2 linked regions of the Homo sapiens genome follow. The protein of the gene in region 1 purifies or fractionates together with the protein of each later gene. This does not show direct contact. Each region holds a gene or a part of one and is shown on either strand. Other genes may lie near its edges. The genes, in order: AMMECR1 and ZNF507.

What was found.
Region 2: the proteins of AMMECR1 (region 1) and ZNF507 purify together in Homo sapiens (affinity purification with mass spectrometry; one large-scale study listed by BioGRID and IntAct). This does not show direct contact.

The regions. Positions count from the first base shown.
Region 1 is NC_000023.11:110,199,540-110,203,366, reverse strand, and holds part of AMMECR1 (nuclear protein AMMECR1), read left to right. Parts: intron 1-830; coding exon 831-921; intron 922-2,316; coding exon 2,317-2,413; intron 2,414-3,827.
Region 2 is NC_000019.10:32,351,833-32,355,659, reverse strand, and holds part of ZNF507 (zinc finger protein 507), read right to left. Parts: intron 2,832-3,827; 5' UTR 2,830-2,831; coding exon 703-2,829; intron 1-702. UniProt on the Homo sapiens protein: May be involved in transcriptional regulation.

The sequences.
Region 1 (3,827 bases):
ATTAAAAAAAAATTAGCAAGAAATTGCTCACAGTTACTTAGAAGACTACCTTTTTAAGGGCATCACCACAAGCTTGTTTTACATTAAAAAGTTACAGTGGTCTCTGGGCTAGTATATAAAGAGACTGCAATAATGCACTACAGTGAAGTGATTTGAAATCTTTATTCTTAAATTTAGTAGAGCTGTGTGAAGACAATGGTGTAGATGGACAGTGAAGGTCTGCTACTACCCCACTCTAAGTCATAATGCATTTTTAAAGAAATGCTGTCTACACTGGGTGATGATGTAGGATCTGGTTGTTTTCATTATTAATTTTCAATCTTACCTGACTGTGTTTGCTTGCCTACGTATAATTTAATGTTTTAAACGGAGTAGACAGTTTGGGAGGGGATCAGCACCAAAAATTTTGGAACTTAATCAGAAGTGGTGAGTGTACCTGCAAAACAGGATGGTTGTTTGCTATCTCTTTGAAGTCAGTCACCTTTGTCTCTAGTTCTTTATTGGCATGAGCTACAATTTGGGAGTGGGGCAGGATTTTTGCCATCAACCGTCTTATTCTACAGACAGCTTCAGAATAGTTGTTCCAGTTTTCCAAACATAGTATCATAGCCTAGTGCATGTTGGGCACATGCAAATCAATATTTTCCCTCTCCGTGGCCATCATAATGGCCTTCAAATCCAAAGTCAAAGCTTTGGAAAGAGAAAACTTATACGTCCTTCTAAAAACAAAGGGAAAGGAAGAACTGCATTCTCTTGAAAGTTAAATTATAACCTTTTCTTTCTGATTCTATGAAGAAGACTGTACTAATAAAACTGCCAATTTCTTTCAGGTGGGTGTACATGGCATTAGAATAGAATTCATCAATGAAAAAGGATCAAAACGCACCGCCACCTACCTACCGGAGGTTGCAAAGGAGCAAGGTCATTGTTGTACTTTATTTCATATGATCTGGTGAAGAATTTAAACAAATATACAAACTGAAATGCGTTATCTGACCTTGCAGTTATGTCTAATAATTGAAGTGTCAAATTATAAGAAGTGACTCTTCCATCACTGCCACTGCAATGTCTGTATCAAGTCGGTGAAGTACTCACAGAAGTTGAATCCCTGCATTGAAGTTTGATGGCATAAACCCATAAGTGTATATTTTTTAAAAAGCAGAATTTATATTAGTTGGTTTTCATTTTAGGCAACAATTTGCTACCGATTTGAAATGCATTTTTCCCATATTCCATTGTGGCATAAACAAGCCTTTTGTTTGACAATCAGCCACATAGTTCTTTGTCATTTTAAGTATCAAATGTTTCATTCTTAGGTGGTTGCCATTACTCATCCTGCTGATACTAAGATTCTAGGTTTCCCACTAAGATCAGAGGATTGCGAAAACATGAAGTGTTAGTGTTTTATATGCTTGGTCTACACTTCCTAATCAGAATTTTCCTGTTTCACACATAGAGCATAGACCTGTATGAACCAACATTGTAACACAAAGTAACTTTTCACTCTGTAGTATTTTATCCTTTCTTAGCAACTACTAAATTCTGGTTTCATGTTGGTCGAAATGAATCTTTTATCTTGGGGAGCTTTTCTTCTCATCAGAAAGCATTTGTAATTTGGTTTTCCCGTGTTTGTCTTATAAATGTGAGATACATAATAGCAAAATTAATGCCATTAAATCCCCAGATCAGAAAGTCTTCAAGGCAGTTACTTGAAGATTTATTTGGGTTGCTTTAGAAAATGTCTTAATCTCCTAGTATCATTAACTTTGTAAAGCATACATAAAAGATAGAGGGCCTCAGATACTAGTATACCATCCATGTCAGAACTAATCAAAATACCCTTGAATACTGCACACAAACTTGAATGATTACAGAATTACAGAAGATACCATAAGGAACAACAATTACTGTGAGGTGGTGTGGGAGTCCTAAATATTGACTTGGCAAAATGGCATATAGGCTTTTCACTCCCTTTTAAAGATGTCACTGTTAGAGGAAAGTACAACAGATATGGTTTGTTACAGTCATGACTGAGCAATTTCTGCCAGCCCCTTAGACCCCTTGACTTCGAATGCGAAGATAAAGGAGCCAGTGTTGTTTGGCATTGTGGATAGCTAGAATTTAAGGAGTGTGGTGATGACCCTGCTTTTGTAAAGGATGAAATCTTAGCTTTTCTGTGTGATTGTTTTTAGGACCAAAAGATTTGATGGCATTTGGTGACAGTGATAGCTGACCTCTACAAAGTCATTTTGTATTTAATGAAAGGTGTTTGTTACATGTGCTTGACTGATATTTTATCTGGTCATCTCTCTACAGGATGGGACCATATACAGACCATAGACTCCTTATTGAGGAAAGGAGGATACAAAGCTCCGATTACTAATGAATTCAGGAAAACCATAAAACTGACCAGGTACAGAAGACATTTTCTAGCACAAGGCTAACCTGTACATTTTGATGTGTATGCCTATAACCCTTTGATTTCTTTGGTCTCTCTAACTACACTTCTTTTTTCTGAAACAGAGTGGAAATGAATGGCAGGGTCATACTGAGGGTGGATACAATGGAACTCTGCTTCGTAGTAAAGCCTGTGTGATGTATGAGCCTATCTTTCCCATCTTTAGCTCTGTGTGATTACTCTGGCTTTTGTACGAGCAAGCCCTTGGAGATTTTAGACTACTTTATTGGAGAAAGTACTTGAATTAGCAATTGGCTAGCTTTTGACATTACTGAGCAGAACCCCAGGATTCTGATAAACAGTCCTCAAATTCGAATTTAATCTCAGAATTTTGGCAGTGATAGAAGTCTACCAAGAAAACTTGTTAGCTTGCTGAAAAACACAATTGAGCTAAACTCAAATGCTAAATAAATTTCAGCATGAAAAAATAGGGATGCTTATTTAAAAAGGAAAATACCGTACATTTTAGGAAAATGGGCTGCTGGTTCCATTTATTTCAATTCCATAAAACTACATTGAATGCTTATAGTCTAAAAATGGCCTATTCTCAGCTCTGAGGAGTTACAAATTCAGAAATACCTCCATCTCTGCTCTCCCTGAGTTCACAGTGGAGGAGAATAGAAGGGGCATGGACAAAATTATTAATCTAAGGCAGAATATGATGGATAATATGAGATCCATTCCCATAAAGTAGGGAAAGAGGAATTCTAAGAGGGTGGGAGGGGGATAACAGATAGTTTCAAAGAGGTCAGCTGGGGGCTGGGTTTGAAGAATGGATAGAATATTTGACAGGTAAAAAGGGATTTTTTTTTGACAGGAGGAAAGTGATTCCCTTAAGGAAGACCTTGTGAGTCAAGGGTGGTGAAGTACAAAGCAAGTTCTGAGAATATGAAATAGTCTGATTGGGCTGGTCTTTTAGTGTAATAGAGAAGCTGATCATTAGAGGAAAATATGGCCCAGAAGGTAGGTTGGGCAGACCATTGAGGGTCCTGAGTTCCAGAGTAATTAGTTTGGACCTGGTTCTATAGGCAATTGGTAGCTATTGAAGGATTTTAATCAGATGGGCTTGGGGAGGTATAAGAATGGAATTGGAAACAGGAAAATGAGCCAGGAAGCGTTGGTATTATCTAAGAATCTGTGGCAGCAGTCCAAAAGAGGTGCAACAGGGGCCTTAACTAGAGCTGTGGCAGTGAGATGGGAAGAAAGGTTGGGATCGATATGAAAATAATGTGGAAGAAATGAAAGGACTGGGTCATCATTTAGAAATAAAGAAGAAAGTCAAGGCGTTAATCTAGATAAAAGGGACCAAGGTAATCCCTTTAATCAAAGTAGGGACCACAAGAGGAGTGTGTTAAGTTTATGCATCGAT
Region 2 (3,827 bases), on another chromosome or scaffold:
TTCAAGGAGTCACCTGGCCCACTGAAGAAAAGTTCTAAACCAATGATTCAACGTTTCCTTTATAAAAGAATAGCACTTCATACAGGATATTGGTTTTGATAAGGTCAGCACTTAAGATAAAAATCAGACAGTCAAAATAACTCTTGAAAGTTCTTTACCCTGCCCATAAAACATGACACACATGGCTCTATTTCCATGACAGTACCTTTTAATAGGTCCGCCATAGCCCATTTTTCCTTCTGCAATGATACACATCACTGTTGGTTATGTAGAAGCTGAACTGAATGCCTGGCATTCTGGGGCCATATAAGATGAAAAATATGTATTTTTTTGTTGTGATGATGTACGGTTAAATTTGTTTAAGTCAAACGTATGTCAATACGTTAAGTCAAACGTATGTCAATCCACTATACACTCCCTACAATTCTCTTGCAACAGAAAATCAACACTTTAAACTATACACACTAAAACACAGAGGCTGTCAAGGAGGCAGCAGGCAGGGAAAAGGATTCTACAGCAGAAATTCTGAACAGTCCCAACTTTAATACTGGTAAGTTGGGATCCCCTTGGGCAACTTATCAAACTTTTCTGGGACCCAGTTTCCTTATCTATAAAATGAGGTGATTGGATTAGATCTACAAAGTTCCCTTCTCACTCTAAGATGCGAAGGTCCTCTGAAAGACTTCCTGAACCAATGCTTACCTTATAATGGAAGGATTCTTCACACTGCTTGCACTGGTATATTCTTGTCTTACAGTGGTGGATCATGTGACTCTCCAAATCTTTGCTGTTGTCCGCTATGTGCTCGCAGATAGGACACTGATAAGGCTGTCTCTGTCGATGGACTCGTAAGTGCTGCTTGATGTAGCCCTTGTTGCCACTTGTGTAGTGACACAGGCGGCAACGGTAGGGTCGTTCAGCATTCGGGATGTATTCCACCACATTGTTTCCGGACAAACTTGTATCGCTGTTGGGTTGGCACTGGGCGTTGTCCTGCAACTCTTTCAAAATGTCATCGTCTGAAGCGTTTTGGTCTGTCCTTTCTCTCAATTTTTCAATGACGGTGAGTAAGGACATGCTGATGCCTGTCTTAACCTGCCCATCTGACAATTCCTGCCTACCCTCTGGGAGTGCTACCAAGGTGGAGTTGCTTTGGTTAAGACTAGTTAATCCATCTGAAGAGTTTTTAAGTGGCGACATCATTTTTGAGTACGCTGCCAATGTACTATCTACTTGCCTTTGACTAGTATCTGGATCTAAAAGGTTTATATCTCCATAGTGCCCCAGGTTGGCTCTTGTCAACTCTGCAGCTCTTATAGGCATTGTGACAAGGGCTTCTGCAGCTAATGAGTGTAATCGAAGAGACTCAGAATTTGTCCTTCTCCGGCCTGGTGGGGCATTCTCATCAGTAGCCAGGCCTTTATTCATTAACTCGTCTTTTTTCTCTGAACTGCTCCAGCCTATGATCAATCCCCCAATATCAACAGTACATTTATCAGCACGATAAACATCATCCATTCCTTCGCGCCCAATCTGAGCTTCTGTCAGGCTCAGGTCCTTCCCTTCTTCCATTTCAGTGTTCATGAGGAAGCGCTTCTGTGAAAGGGTTTCTTCAGCACTTGGCAATCGCTCCACTATCACGTTAACATGCCCTTTTTTATTGGGGCTGCTGCTGATGATTTTCTGTGCTGATGTAAGCAGGCTATCAGGAATCAGATTCTCCTCTGCATCAGAAATCACTTCTAGCATTTCTTCCTCATTGGGGTCCAGGGTAACTGACTGACTTAGGTGTACTCCTCTTTCTGCACTCTGTTCTAAAGGAGATGAAGATGATAACTGTTCTGAGCTGCAAATCTGCACTTGCACTGATGGCCCATTGTGGATACTCAGTTCACTCTCTCCAATAGCAATGACGACTGCATCGACCCCACCAGGCGCAGCAGCTGCTGAAGAATCCAGCAGGCCTAGGGGTTCATTTTCATTTTCAAAGATTGGATAGGAGCAATCAACCTCCCCAGCATGTTTCCAAGCGTGTGTTTTCAACATTCTCTGCTGGCCACAAGTATAACTACAAAACAAGCATCGATACATGCCGTACTGTTCGTATGCATACCATTTCCTCCTACCCATTTCTGCCACAGATGCAGTTTGGACAGTATGAGTCTGTAGATTGTCCACACTTACTGGGATATCTGGAATGGTTTCATTTCTTTCTGTGGTTTTCCGACACAAAGAGCTGGAGGGGCTTACGCACTGTTGGGCTTTGGATTGGGTGTGGATATTGGCATCATTGTCATGGTCATTCACCACGTGGGCTTCAAGTTCCTCCTGGCTTCTAGATGTAATATGGCACTCTGAGCACATCAGTATCACTTCATTTTGCTGACCATGTTGCTTAATATGATCTTTTAACACGGAAAAGGATGATGATAGAAACTTACAAAGGCTACACTGATAAGACATAGCCTTCCCTTCATTCTGGGCAAGAGTGTCAGGGGTAAAATTTGTTTGTGACATCTCAGCCCTTCTAGTATCAGCAGCAGGTGACTGGATTACTTTAGCCGGAATCTCACAAAGTTCTTGGGTTTCAAGAGAGTGTGTTGCAGCACTTGAACGTGGGCGTTTCTTCCCAATTAAAAGACATTTTTGTGACTTTTCATTTTCCACTATCTTGCTTAACTTCTGGATAACATGGATTAATGGATCTGGTTTAGTTTTTCTTTGTTCATCAATTTCCAATGAAGGACTGATGATACTTTCAGCAGTCAGTATAGCTTCCTGTTCCCCAATATCTGGCACCAACATGGCAACACTGCTACTTTCTTCCATATCTAAAAAGGATAATGTAAAACAGAAAAATACCAGGTTACAGGATAATTACAGGCATGTAATTTGGAAAATATAAGAGAATGTTAGTGTCTGTAATCTCATCTAAGTATTTTCTAAGCTGGAAGCTCCATGTCCACACACCCGGCGATCCCCAGTATAGATTTAAATTGGTTAGAATTTCTCTTTACAATGCAATCTTCTATCAAGACTAATGATGAAGATACTCCCCTCTATCACTTATTTCTTCGGAAATGATGATCTTTTTCTCCATTTTTCTTCACTTTCTTTGCCTTCAGCATCCAGCAGGACCAAAAGTACTCCCTCCCTTTTGCACAATGCCAAGAAAAAAAAAAAAAGACTCCTATTCCTTGATTAAAGGAGCACAGCCATTCTCAAGGCATGTGAAACCCCTCCAGTTACTGTGAAACATCACTCTGTAAAGCCAATGACTGATACAATTCTTGAGAGTATTTCTTATACCAAATATAGCTGCAGTTTTATTACTAAAATCACAAATTTGTTTTTTTTCTCCCCAAATCTTTGAAATTGTGAAACTATAGTCATGTAGTTTGTACAGGGCATATTGAATTTGGGAAAGTACTATATAAATGAAATTAAATAAAAGCAATAATCTAGTTCCTACTTTTACTTCCTTTATCTTCCTGAAGATAAACCACAAACTATGCTGTGGTTTTTTTTTAGAGGTCATATTAGTGGTCAACTATTACTCATATCCACATATATGGTTTTTTTTTTTTTCCCTGAAAGGGTAAGGGACATCAGAGAAGGAAAAAATTGATATCCCAGTTGTGTTTCAGTTCCAGATATGAACAGAGTCCTTAGAAGAGGTTATTTGTTCGTTCTAATAATGCATTATGGCTGAGGAAGTCACTAAACATAAAATACCCATAAATCTTTCTGCCTAAGTCTAGAATACTCTTTCTATTTCCTGGCAGTACTTTCATTTCAAACATTTCCTTTGGCTTAAAGTGAGATTA